Homo sapiens: one gene and its partner. The protein of the gene in region 1 interacts with the protein of each later gene in a biochemical or structural test. Each region holds a gene or a part of one and is shown in the gene's direction. Other genes may lie near its edges. The genes, in order: KLF13 and SREBF2.

What was found.
Region 2: the proteins of KLF13 (region 1) and SREBF2 form a complex in vitro, tested with the Homo sapiens proteins (one study listed by BioGRID).

The regions. Positions count from the first base shown.
Region 1 is NC_000015.10:31,371,835-31,378,672, forward strand, and holds the end of KLF13 (Krueppel-like factor 13), read left to right. Parts: intron 1-175; coding exon 176-465; 3' UTR 466-6,065; downstream 6,066-6,838. UniProt on the Homo sapiens protein: Transcription factor that activates expression from GC-rich minimal promoter regions, including genes in the cells of the erythroid lineage. Represses transcription by binding to the BTE site, a GC-rich DNA element, in competition with the activator SP1.
Region 2 is NC_000022.11:41,864,013-41,871,285, forward strand, and holds part of SREBF2 (sterol regulatory element-binding protein 2), read left to right. Parts: intron 1-2,818; coding exon 2,819-3,268; intron 3,269-4,598; coding exon 4,599-4,780; intron 4,781-6,876; coding exon 6,877-7,023; intron 7,024-7,273.

The DNA.
Region 1 (6,838 bases):
GCAGGGGCCCACCTTCATCTCTGCCTTGATGGATTTGTCACAGAAGCTCTTGGAGGTGGGGCATGTGGGAGGGGTGTTGAGAGACCAGGGTGTTGGGTGTTGCGGGCCCTTCCCCAGAGAGGGTGTGAAGGCGGGGCCAGGTGCGGATACTGATGCTCTGCCCCTGTGCCCACAGGTGAGAGGCCCTTCGCCTGCAGCTGGCAGGACTGCAACAAGAAGTTCGCGCGCTCCGACGAGCTGGCGCGGCACTACCGCACACACACGGGCGAGAAGAAGTTCAGCTGCCCCATCTGCGAGAAGCGCTTCATGCGCAGCGACCACCTGACCAAGCACGCGCGCCGCCACGCCAACTTCCACCCGGGAATGCTGCAGCGGCGCGGCGGGGGCTCGCGGACCGGCTCCCTCAGCGACTACAGCCGCTCCGACGCCAGCAGCCCCACCATCAGCCCGGCCAGCTCGCCCTGAGCCCGCCACAGCCATGAGCAGCCGCTCCCACCCCCTCGTGAGTCCCTGGCCTTTCCTTTTGTAATAAGAAAGAAGAGAGAGAACTTGATGCAAAGTCCACGAAAAAACAATTTTTTTCACCTCAGGTGTCAAAGTAAATTTGTTAAAAAAACAAAAAAAACACAAAAATTTCAAAAAACACCACCCACCAAATTGCACAATAGATACACCCACAAAGTTGAGATTCAGCGTTGTTGAACCCCCTTTCTCAGGGATGGACACGTTTCACGAGGTCAGTGAGGACACCCCTTCCTGCCGCCTTACTCTGTACATAGATTTGCACTCTGGAGTTTTCTGTTAGGTTCGGGAACACGCTGGGGACAGAGCAGGCCAGCCAGTCTGGTGGAGCTCAGCGTCTGGCTGGCTGGCCAGCCTGTGGGTCTGTTGGGAGCAGATGTGCTCACTGACGTTTGTGCCTCCAGGGCAGATTCCTAAGCAGCTGGCCTGACCTCTTCCTGCCCAGCCCCCAACCCAGTCTCTGGCCTCTGCCCAACGAGCCTGGCTGGGCTTGCAACGCAGCTGATTCTGAGACAGGCCCCTGCAGAGGGATGCCTTAAAGCTGTCCCTGGCTGGAGGAGCACTCCACCTTGGGGATAGTGGAGGGGGCCTTCAGCCCTCTGCACCCTGCCTGCCTCACACCCCGCCTTCAGGAGCCCTCTCCTACGGCGCTAGGGAGCACTGGAAGCAGAGATGCCAGCCCTGGCTGAGCGTAGCACTGCACCGTCCGACCTCCGAGGCAGGGGCCGGGGTCACACCTGCCAGGACTCCGCTTCTCCGTGTCCCAGCAGAAGGCATGCAGGACCCTGTCACTACTATACCTGGGCCTCTGATGGGGAATTCTGGTCTTCTAAAAAGATGTTAGAAATTCCTGGTGGCACATCCAGTTCCGAGTTTGCCCGCACGGGCACTTTTGTTGGAAACAGTGGGCAGGTCATGGGGCCTCCTCATCAGAGGGTCTGTGTGAGCGGCTGTGCATGTGGCAGCGCACCATGCTTCACAGAGACCATTCTGTAGCAAGAGACCGGAACATTGTGACTTGGACCTTTTCAGGAGTGGCGCGGATGTTACAGGAAATGCTGTCGGAGAGCGCGCATTCTATTTCCTCCGCAGGGAATGCCAGATAGAAAGTTGCGGGCAACACTTTTCTCAGACCCACCATGTCCCCAACTCAGACTTAGCAAACCTCCAGCCTCTCCGTTTCCCCTGGACTCCTCCTCCCTTTTCCTCCTGCTTCTCCTTGTCCTGCCTGGAGGCTCCAGGCCACACCCAGCTGGTGGGGCTGCTCCAGTGCCCCATCACCGGCCTTCTCCTGGCAGGAGAGGAGGAGCAGAGAGCTGGGTCCTGGGCTGGGATTCGAGCCCTGGGCGGGGGTCAGTCAAGCCGTGGTCCAGCAAACTCCTCTGCAGATGGCTGGAGTGTTGACCCAGGCTTGTGGCCCAGGTATCACCTTCCCTTCCTCCTGAGAGTTGAGGCCTGTAAATACAAGGGCCCAGGACAGAGTGTGTGCGTGCGTGTGGGTGTGTGCGCGCGTGAGCACACACGCGTGTGTTGGGGGGGGTGGGGGGATTGGGGTGGACTCAGGGTATCTTGCCAGAGATACCTGTTTTGATGAGTACCTATTTTGATGCAAAGGAACGGCCCTGGGACCTCAGAGGGCCACAGATGGGCTTCCTGGGCCTAGCGTGCCTTGGTTGTGGCCATCCTGCTTCTACTCAGCCCTGCCATGCTATGGGGTGCAGCACAAACCCAGGACCCAGGCCTAGCCACTGCCCACAGCTGATGGTCACTGTTTTGGCTGGCTCCAGAGTGGACAGGTACGCTCTGTCCACAGCAGCTGCTCAGGCACAGTATGCCGTCAGGTGCCCGCTTCTTACCACTGTGTGTCAGCTGGGATTGGCCGACAGCGTGGTGGTGACTTCTAGGTAGACCGATGGACCCTAAATTGGGCAGTGGCATTGTTTCTGCTGTGGTGGGAACTGGCAGGGAGAGGGTCACCTCCACTCTGGTTGGATGCGGAGCTGGTCCCTCTGGCTGCCATGCTGTGTTGGGGCTCTCTGACCTCCCTGCTTGCATTGGGTCTGGGAGAGAGAGTGGAATATTTGGTAGGGACCTTGACAGAAGAGAGCCCTGGGTGCTTGTGGTGCAAAGATCTTCATGCCCAGTTCCAAAGTGAGGTCCCTCCCAAAGTTGTTTTCGTGTGAGGCAGAGAAAGCCACACTCTGAATACATTTTATGTCTCAGGAATTCACATTCCAGGTTCAGGAATTTTATTCCAAAGTCCTTTGGTGCACTCACCGTCCACCGTTCCCCAAGGCAGGGAGAGGGAGTGGCCCGTCCCTGGGAGGCTGGCAAAGTGCTCTCCAGGGAGGGGTCAGACGTCCTTGTGATCTGCCCAGGGTGTCACGGAAGGAGATTTTCTAGCTCCACATCTGTCTGCACATAGGAAGGAAAAGATAGGACTCTAAACCTAGTCATCTTGGAATAAAAAGAAGAGCTGGTTTGTTTTAGAGCAGGGCGGGGGGTGGGGGAGGGAAGCGGGTGTTGGCTGTTTCCAAAGAGAGCACTTAATTTAATTTTTCCTTTAAATGACCCAGGGCTGTTCCGTCTGATAGATGGAAGGGTAACATTGCCTTAAAACAGAAATATGCAGGCGTTGGCTATTTTTGGCATAAGAGCGTGTCTTCATTCCCAAAGTGGTTCTCGTTTAATGGCAGGGTGCGGTCCTTAGGCCCCGGCCTGGACTGGGAAATGGGGGTAGGGCACCAGGAGAGAAATCCTCCTGGGTACTCCTGGCCAGACCCTCCTGAATCATCTGCGGCTTAAACTCATCTCGCTTGAAGGGCAGGGAGAAACCCATGAATCTCAGGCACGGTTCACAGGGGTCCTCAAGGGCAGGTTTCCATTTCATCATGAAGTGAGGGACTCCTGTGGAAGAGGGTGGTGGGCCTTGGAACGCTGCCTCCACTGAGGCGGGCACACAAGGCGGACCCTCCTGAAACAGCCTCCATTTTCTTCAAACATGCAGAATGTTTTCCCAGACTGCGTCTATTTCAGGGTCTTCCATTTTTGTGGTTTATGGCCATGCTTGCCAGTTTTGGTGGGGTTGAGGAACCCATAGGACTCATAGAAATAATAGTGAAAACTCAAACCCTTATTTTGGGACTTCAGTTCTCGTGGTCCATAGGGGCAGAGATGTCAAAGTGAAGGTTGCCTGAGTGAAGGGAGAGTTCCCCTATAAAAGGCCTAAAATTGATCTGGGGCTCAGCCATCAAGGGGCTGGTGTTGCTCCTGTCCCAGACAAGGAAGCCCCTCTTTACATCAGCCATATTAGGGGAACGGTTGTCAGCTCCCCAAATGCCTACTGGATCCTACAGCCATACAGGAAAACAGACGGACACAGCCCTTTCCTTAAAGAGCCCTGGGGTCCTGTCCTGCAGGATGCTGCATAGGAATGGGCAGAGATGTCCTGGATGGGAACATGGTCCTGGAGGTGCCCTACCTGCATCCTGCTGCACCCCCACCCACGACACTCGAGTGCAAGATCGCCTCACTCCTAACCCTGACTTTATTCCCAGGCCCCACACCGAGGCAGGTGCAGGATTCGCCATGGTGCAGCCTCCGGGTACAAACATCTGAGGCACTGGCGATCCCAGTCCTTGCAGCACCCTGAACACAGCTCAGACCAGTGAGGGGTGATTCAGAGGTGGGGATGGGCAGAGAGGGCTGGCCACTCTGCCTCAGGACTTGACCTCAAGTGTTCTGTCTCCCCACCCGGTGTGTCCAGAAGACCAGCCTCTTTCTTGCCAGAAGCAGGTGCTAAGATGGACTGCACAGGGTCCCGGCACTCCCTCGGGACCCATTCAGGATCTCAGCTGGGCAGGGGTGCCACCCAACAGGAAGATGTGATCTGAGCAATAGTGTGGCCTTGTTTCTCCGCTTCTGGTTGTGGCTGTGTGTACAGGGCTACCTATTTTGACTTCTGACAGGTGTCACTGATTTTCTTTCCCCCATTTAAAAAAGGTCATTTAGTCAAAGACACAGTGCTAGAGGTTTAAAGGGTGTAATGTGTTGGTCACATCACAACCAGTAAGAAACGCTTGGTAGGTTATCCACATCTTTTGCTGACTGTTTCCATATACAATTCTGGTCACCATATTTTCCAAAGCTAAAATCTGAGGCGTGGGCTGATGGTTTTTGAAATCAGGATTACCCCAGGAAGAACCAGGTCCTATTACTAATTTTCCTGATTCTGAGGCTCTGAAGGCTTGTCTGAGACACATTCCGGAGACCTTTGTACCAGAACTTGGATGCATAGTCCACCTTACTACTGATACACGCCTGAGCACCCTTTAGGGCGAGGCGCCGCCTCCTGCCTGCTGTCCTGTCCCTCAGCATCAGAAGAGTTGAATTCAGCAGGAGACGGGAGCCCGGTGTCCATGAGGGAAGAGGGGTCGCGCTTGGTTTCTACTGACCCCCATGAAGATTTCAGACTTGCAGTGCGGCCACCTGGCCCTGCCCTGCCTCTCTCTTTCTCATACAGCTTTAAAACTTTACTACTTTTATTTAAAAATGAACTGGATGGGAGAGAAGTAGCGTCCCCTACCCTACAAGTCACACATTCCGGGGAGGGGGGTGGGGGGTGGAGGCAGGAAGTCATGGGGGTGGGGGTGGGAGCACGGGAACAGCTTTCTTAAGGCCTCAGGGTCCTGTTTTCCCTGGCCTCTTCTAGAGGGCCCGTGGACAGGTCGCAGTGCGTGCTTATTTGGAAACCAGGTGTGTGAGCCGAATGCCTGCCAGGCCATGCACTCAGCAGAGGAGCCCTTGTACCTGGCTGCCCTGAGAGGAGCAAGAGGCCACCTCCCATGTGGCTCTAGACACCACGTGGGCTCATTAGCCCCAGCGTCTGTGCCGGCTCCAGGTGCCTGCCTCTGGGTGTGTGAGTGGGAGACTTTGCTCCCTGGCCTCATCCTAGAGAGGCCCCTGGTGCCTAGTGCTGAGGCCTCTGGGGCTGGAAAGCCTCAGCAGAAAGGAGGCACTACTGAGCAACTATGCATTGTCATTGTCGGGTTTGGGGCTTTCGGTGGTTCCTTGGTGACTGGGAATTGCTTGTGTGCATGTGTTGGGTGCATGCTTCCGGGTCTCAGCTGCCCCAGGCCCGCACAGGCAACCCCTTCCCATCCAAAGCCATTGGTGGAGCTTCTCTGGAATCATTTGCCAAAAGCCCAAGGCAGAATCCAAGGGTCCAAGACCATTTCCATGGAGCTCATGTTTTTCTTTTCTGTAGGAACTTTTTTTTAACCAGCACCCACCATAATTCCGAAGGCCACGTTTCATCTTTCCTGGATCACTACAGTGAAGTATTACAGTTGTACAGTTCCCAGTCTGGCCTTGGCTTGCTCGGATAAAACTTTGTATGTATTTTGTATGGCATAGATTCTATATTGTAATGATGTCCTATGCAAAAAGAAAAATTAACGAAATTGTAAATTTTATTGTTTTAACGTGTATGCATGTTTAGTGACGTTTACATTTTGAAATAAAATTTATGATTCATTATTTTATTTGCTGGAGCTAGTTTCTTTGAAGAGCATGTCTTGCAGAGGCTCCGGGAGGGGAGGGGAACTGAAATGCACAAACTCAAGCAGTTGCAATTGACTGAGGGACTGAAGCTTGCCTGGAACTTGGCGGGTCCTATTTTGGAAGGAAGGCTTTGCAGAAGAGCTCTTGCACACAGTGGGTGCTCTTCTGGCTTCCCCTCCTGCCCATGGGAAGCTATTTCAGCTCTTCACATTCCCACCCCTCCGTCCATCCGAAAGAGCACGGAGGAGAACGGGATGTGGTGATGGCAGATTCCCTCAAAGGGCACAGCACCTTTCCCTCAAAGTCCCCCCAAAACACCTGGACTTCCTTTTCCTGGGCAGCAGCCACCGCTTCTTTCAACCCCAGATGCGCTGCTTGCCTCACCCCTCAGCCTAGAGTCTAGAAAACTCCCCTGTTTCTAGCTACCAAAGTTCCTACAACCTACCACGGGCACTGACCCCAAAGTGTGCTCCAGCGAGGACGAGTCCCAGGACACTGGGAGTCTGGGGAGTAGGAAGGCAGGTGTTGATAGCAGAGCCCGTTTAAGTCCCCAATGAACACTAACTGCCCCTGGCTGTCCCCAGGGCAGATGATGTCCTCATCGGAGGCAGTGGGAAGCTGGCAGCTAGTGGAGGAGGTGGCTGCTGGGGTGGAGGTCTGGCCCGAACCCTGTTCTAGCCACAGCATGTAGAAGGGAGGTGCTGGTGCAGCCACATCTCAGCCTCACCCAGGGGTAGACCAGCGCTGCATCTGG
Region 2 (7,273 bases), on another chromosome or scaffold:
TAGCTGGGATTACAGGCACCCACCACCATGCCTGGCTAATTTTTGTAGTAGACAGGGGTTTTCACCATGTTTGTCAGGCTGGTCTCGAACTCCTGACTTCAGGTGATCCACCTGCCTTGGCCTCCCAAAGTGCTGGGATTACAAGCATAAGCCACCACCCCTGGCCTATTTACATTTAATTATGATTTATTTTTCCTATCCTTCTGCAAGCATATATATATATATATATATATATATATATATATATATACACACACACACACACACACACAAAATATCAAAATATATATATATATGTATATATATATATATTTTTTTTTTTTTTTGAGACTGAGTCTCGCTCTGTTGCCCAGGCTGGAGTGCAGTGGCACGATCTCTGCTCACTGCAAGCTCTGCCTCCCGGGTTCACTCCATTCTCCTGACTCAGCCTCCCGAGTAGCTTGGACTACAGGCGCCCACCACCACGCCCAGCTAATTTTTTGTATTTTTAGTAGAGACGGGGTTTCACCGTGTTAGCCAGGATGGTCTCGATCTCCTGACCTTGTGATCCGCACGCCTTGGCCTCCCAAAGTGCTGGGATTATAGGCGTGAGTCACCGCGCCCGGCCCAAAAAATCTTTGTGTTTTTTTGTTTGTTTGTTTTGTGTTCAGAGAAGGGATCTGGCTAGGTGCCCTGGCTCATGCCTGTAGTCCCAGCACTTTGGGAGGCCAAACCGAGAGGTTGCTTTTCAGGAGTTTGAGACCAGCCTGGGCAACATGGTGAAATCTCGTCTCTACAGAAAATACAAAAATTAGCCGGGCATGGTTGGCGCACACCTGTGGTCCCAGCTACTCAGGAGGCTGATGTGGAAGGATCGCTTGAGCCTGGGAGGTGGAGGCTGCAGTGAGCTGAAATTGCAACACTGCACTCCAACCTGGGTGACAGAGCAATACCCTATCTCAAAAAAAAGAGAGACAGAGTCTCGCTGTGTTGCCCAGGCTGTTCTCAAACTCCTGACCTCAAGTGACCCTCCCACCTTGGCCTCACAATGCACTGGGATTACAGGCATGAGCCACCACAACCGGTCTCAGCAGCTTTCTGTTTGTCAGATATACAAATATACCCCAGGCTCCAGGCCCCCACATCCCCCAAAAAACACACACACACACACACACACAGCATCAGAGACCTGAGAAGGACATCTTGGTGGAGGTTTGGGGGAATGGAGATGGTTCCTTTTATTTTTTTATAGTGGTGGTGTGGTGGTTTTTGTTGTTTTGGTGTCTAAATCAGAGCATCACATGGCCTTGAAGGTTTGGAAAGGAGGGGCCATAGTTCAAGAACAAGCAGTAGCTTCTTGGGAACGTATTGGAGAGAGAAAAGAGAAAAGAATATGGACAATGTAGAGAATTGTAGGTCTGAAACTATCTGGGACAAAGCTGAGGCTCCTGACTTCTATAGGGACCAGTCATATGAAAAAGAAGGGAGTCGTGAGAGATGATGGGGTAGTTGTGGGTTAAGTTGGGTTTTGGAAAGCCTTTGGGAAGATTGACCAGGGAAGAGGCCCTGGAAGTAGGCTTGAGACCCTTTGGGCTGGGAATTTAAGGGTCCCAGCTACTTGGAACATGATCTAGAAAGGGAAGCGAGGTCTCCAGGTGGACAAATCCCTTTGGACCCAAGACTCCTTGCCCAGAGAAAAGGGGCACAACCAGACAAGGGCTAGCATGGGCCCTGGGAAGCACGGAGTTCAGGGTGGGGCAGGCTTGCTGTGTCCTGGCCTGGCAACATACCTGCACTGTGTTGTGGTAGAAGAACACAAAGCTGGGAGGCAGAGAACTGGTTCTAATCCTAGCTGTACCCTGACAAGCTGTGTGACCTTGGCCAAGTTACTTTCCTCTCCTGGACTTCATATATGGTTTTTCCATTCTTTGCATCCCTGAAGCTCCATGACTTAGGGGCCATCAACTTGGTTGTCCCTGAGTGTTTCCAAGAATACCAACAGTGCCCAGGGTTTTACTCAGCTTGGAGAGGAGGCCTAGAGCCTCCCTGTGGTGAGGAGGAAAGAGGTTAGAGCAAGTTTGGGTCTGCAGTGCTAGGATTAGAGGTGGCCTCACAAGCCAAAACCGCTATACTCACAGCCTTAGGACAGTGACTCCCTACTCGCTGCCTCAGTGTTTCCAGCTGTAAAAAAGGACCCTTGGTACCTTCGACAGAACAGCACCCATCTAGTACAAAGGTAGTTCCTTTTATGATCAAAACAATCAGGAAAAAGAGAGAGGCTGGGTGCGGTGGCTCACACCTGTAATCCCAGCACTTTGGGAGGCTGAGGTGGGTGGATCACCTAAGGTCAGGAGTTCGAGACCCACCTATCAATATGGTGAAACCCTGTCTCTACTAAAATTACAAAAATTAGCCGGGCATGGTGCCGTGCACCTATAGTCCCAGCTACTCAGGAGGCTGAGGCGGGAGAATCGCTTGAACCCAGGAGGCAGAGGTTGAAGTAAGACAAGTTCGCGCCACTGCACTCCATCCAGCGTGGGCGATAGAGGAAGACTCCGTCTCAAAAAGAAAAAAGAAAGAAAATGAGAGAAAGGGCCTGGAGGTGAGTGTGAGGAGGGAAAAGAACATCAAACAGATAAAGTCCTGTCCTGTTGTCCTGGGACCTTGGGCAGCCATCTTGGCCCAGATGATCCCCACAAGAAAGAGGTAAGGGTTTCCTGACCCATTTCTGCCATGGTCTTAGGAAAGTCATTGAGTTTTCATGCCTTAGTTTCTTAAGCAAGTTTGAAAGTTCACTTTTTGGATAGCAATAAAATTACTCCTTTTCTTTTGTTCACAGAGATGCTGCAATTTGTCAGTAATCAAGTGGGAGAGTTCCCTGACTTGTTTTCAGAACAGCTGTGTAGCTCCTTTCCTGGCAGTGGTGGTAGTGGTAGCAGCAGCGGCAGCAGTGGCAGCAGCAGCAGCAGCAGCAATGGCAGGGGCAGCAGCAGCGGAGCTGTGGACCCTTCAGTGCAACGGTCATTCACCCAGGTCACATTACCTTCCTTCTCTCCCTCGGCGGCCTCCCCACAGGCTCCAACTCTGCAAGTCAAGGTTTCTCCCACCTCAGTTCCCACCACACCCAGGGCAACTCCTATTCTTCAGCCCCGCCCCCAGCCCCAGCCTCAACCTCAAACTCAGCTGCAACAACAGACGGTAATGATCACGCCAACATTCAGCACCACTCCGCAGACGAGGATCATCCAGCAGCCTTTGATATACCAGAATGCAGCTACTAGCTTTCAAGGTGATTCAGAAGTTAGAATGGTAGTGGTTGGTTGGTTCCAATGTTTATGTGCCAGTTTGCAGACACTGTAAATATTTCTGTCGTCTTCAGGAATGGCAGGTATATCAATATGGTCCTGTCTGAATGAGGTTCTGGTAACTGGCAATAAGAACTGGTACAGGAGCATGTCACATTCTGCAGCTTCAAATACCTTAATATCTATTGCGCCTAATTCAAAAATACTTGGTTAAAAAATCCAGCAAGCGGCCGGGCGCGGTGGCTCACGCCTGTAATCCCAGCACTTTGGGAGGCCAAGGCGGGCGGATCACGAGGTCAGGAGATTGAGACCATCCTGGCTAACTCAGTGAAACCCCATCTCTACTAAAAAATAGAAAAAATTAGCCGGGCATGGTGGCGGGCGCCTGTAGTCCCAGCTACTCGGGAGGCTGAGGCAGGAGAATGGCGTGAACCCGGGAGGCAGAGCTTGCAGTGAGCAGAGATCGTGCCACTGCACTCCAGCCTAGGCAACAGAGCGAGACTCCCATCTTAAAAAGAAAAAAAAAAATCCAGCAAGCATAGTAGACACAGGGCCATTCTGATAACTAGTGGTGGAGACTTGAATAAGGCTTGAAATTGGCTAGGCGGCAGCCAGATCTCAGCTGCCACAGTTGAGAACTATTCATTCAGCAAACATCTGAGCATCCACTATGGTGATGAATATGACTTTTAATATAGGTGCAGCAGCTTCAAGTAGCAAGCCTCATGCTGGGCCCTTAGTATGTGTTGAGGGAATGGATGACTGAAAGGGGCCTGTTCTTTCTGTGATGTGCTGCATCCCAGTGCCTTTTCATCATATTTCCCTCTGACTCTGTGGGGAGCCCAGGGTAAGATTAGTATTGCTTTGAATTTCAAAGAATCTTATAGTTCTTCAATGGAGTTCAAGAATTGGGACAGGTGGGGGAATGTAAAGGCAAAAAGCTGAGACAGTCCTCCCAAAGTGCACTTGCCGTCCAGAAAGGATGGAAGAAAATGAAGCCCCAGGGAGTTGTTGATTCTCAACATCTGTTAACTCCCTTGCTGGGTGCAGTCATTTGCTGATTAGCTTCCCTTTCCCCCACCCTGGCACCCAGAGTAATAAAACAATTTGTACTCGTTCCCTCAGAAATTGATGCAGCCCTTATGGGATGTTCTTGTTGTCTAAGCCACCTTGTAAATGGCTGTGCACATCATCTTCAGCAGTAGGTGGGGAGTTGGAATCATTATGAGATACTCCATCCTCAGGTTTCTGCTGCAGCTGCAGTGACAGAATGCATTCCTCATCTCTGTGCCTTCTTTCTCCTCTTCTCCCAAGTCCTTCAGCCTCAAGTCCAAAGCCTGGTGACATCCTCCCAGGTACAGCCGGTCACCATTCAGCAGCAGGTGCAGACAGTACAGGCCCAGCGGGTGCTGACACAAACGGCCAATGGCACGCTGCAGACCCTTGCCCCGGCTACGGTGCAGACAGTTGCTGCGCCACAGGTGCAGCAGGTCCCGGTAAGTGGCTGGAAAGGATTCAGGGAGGCACTGGTTGGGGCTGTTAACTGGTCCTTGGTTGAAGATGTGGTCTACATACTAAGAAGGACCAACCAGAGTGTACACAAAGCAGCTTGTAGGGCGCCAGGATGCACCTGTGAGCAGCGTATAGTGACCTGGCTGAGTCCATATCTGTAGATAGACACTGGCACTCAGGAAAGGCTGGTGCAGTCACTTACGTACACATGTAATGGGCATAAAACTGGAAAGAAATGTGCTAAATTGGTATTTCCCAGATAATTTTCTTTTTCATAGTTTTGTGTTGTGTTTTTTTGTTGTTGTTGTTGTTTTGAGACGGAGTCTCATTCTGTTGCCCAAGCTGGAGTGGAGTGGTGTGGTCTCAGCTCACTATAACCTCCGCCTCCCGGGTTCAAGCAGTTCTGCTGCTTCAGCCTCCCGAGTAGCTGGGACTACAGGCATGTGCCACCACACCCGGCTAATTTTTATATTTTTAGTAGAGACGGGATGTTGGCCAGGCTGGCTTGAACTTCTGACCTTGTGATCCACCCGCCTCGGCCTCCCAAAGTGCTGGGATTACAGACGTGAGCCACTGCCCTTGGCTTTCATAGTTTTCTGTTCTCCATATTTTCTGCTGTGGATCCTGAACATATATTGGGTTGGGGGGAGGGGGGGCATGTATTATTAATCTTTTTTTTAATTTTTTTTTTTTGGAGACAGTTTTGCTCTTGTTGCCCAGGTTGGAGTGCAGTGGCGTGATCTTGGCTCCCTGCAACCCCCGCCTACCAGGTTCAAGCGATTCTCCTGCCTCAGCCTCCCAAGTAGCTGGGATTACAAGCACCTGCCACTGCACCTGGCTAGTTTTTTGTATTTTTAGTAGAGATGGGGTTTCTCCAGGTTGGCCAGGCTGGTTTTGAACTCCTGGCCTCAAACAGTGCATCGATCTCGGCCTCCCAAAGTGCTGAGACTACAGGTGGGAGCCACTGTGCCCAGCTGGGGGACGTGTATTATTTTTATAATCACAAAAAACGTCTTTATGTTATATATCATCGTGGACTATATCCTCTTTTTTCTTTTTTTTTTTTTGAGAGTCTTGCTCTGTCGCCCAGGCTGGAGTGCAGTGGCACGATCTCGGCTCACTGTGCAACCTCAGCCTCCTGGGTTCAAGCAATTCTCCTGCCTCGGCCTCCCGAGTAGCTGGGATTCCAGGCACGCGCCATCACGCCCAGCTAATTTTTGTATTTTTAGTAGAGACAGGGTTTCACCATGTTGGTTAGGCTGGTCTCAAACTCCTGACCTCATGATCCACCTGCCTTGGTCTCCCAAAGTGCTGGGATTACAAGCATGAGCCACCACATCTGGCCTATATTTTCTTACTAACAATTTATCTTAAAAAAATCAGGTTTATTATTTTTGCTTCTCAGCCATGTGTCTGGCTTTCCTGAGTCTTTTCTCTCCTCTCTGCCATCCACCCTACCCATCTCTGCTCTGCTCCTGCTGGGCCACTGGCACCACCCTCTTGAAAGTCTTTCAACCTAAAAACCCATGACCTGGCTGAGCACCATGGCTCACGCCTGTAATCTCAGCACTTTGGGAGGCTGAGGCAGGTGGATTTCTTGAACCCAAAAGTTCAGGACCAGCCTGGGCAACATGGTGAAACCCTGTCTCTACAAAAAAATACAAACAATTAGCCAGGCATGGTGGCACACACCTGTAGTCCCAGCTACTCAGGAGGCTGAGGCAGCAGGATCACTTGAGCCCGGGAGGTCAAGGCTGCAGTGAGCTGAGATTGCACCACTGCACTCCAGCCTGGGCAACAGAGAGCAACCCTGTCTCAGCAAAAAAAAAAAAAAAAAAAAAAAGCCAGGACCCTCATTAGCTAGCCCCTCTTTCTCCACCTGAACCCGGTATTCAGGCTGTACAAAATAGCCGGCTTTTGAAATGGCCTCTATGAAATTTCCTGTTCATTTTTTTATTCTCAATTTCATAAAAATTATATCATTTCTCATTCTTTCTTGGAAGGTCTATGCAGTAAGAAAGGAATGCATAACAGAAGGATAATGCTATCATCCTTTTACTTTTCTTCCTTCTTCATCCAGGTCCTGGTCCAGCCTCAGATCATCAAGACAGATTCCCTTGTTTTGACCACACTGAAGACAGATGGCAGCCCTGTTATGGCTGCGGTCCAGAACCCGGCCCTCACCGCCCTCACCACCCCTATCCAGACGGCTGCCCTTCAAGTACCAGTAAGAGCTGCCTTCTCCCCCACCCTCCTCCCTCCCCCTTTATTCCTGGAGGTGTTAGTCTTCAGAGATGTTAAATCTCTATATGCTGAGTAGGTATGGGAGGGTCTATAGCACAAATCAGTCAAATTGTAAATGTCACCCCTCTTAGTTGTTTTTCGCTCGAAAAAGTATTAGCAATGTGTGTTCGATGTGGGAGTACTGGAGTCTACAAGGAGGTAGAAAAGAATAGCAGAAGGACCCTCTATTCTTG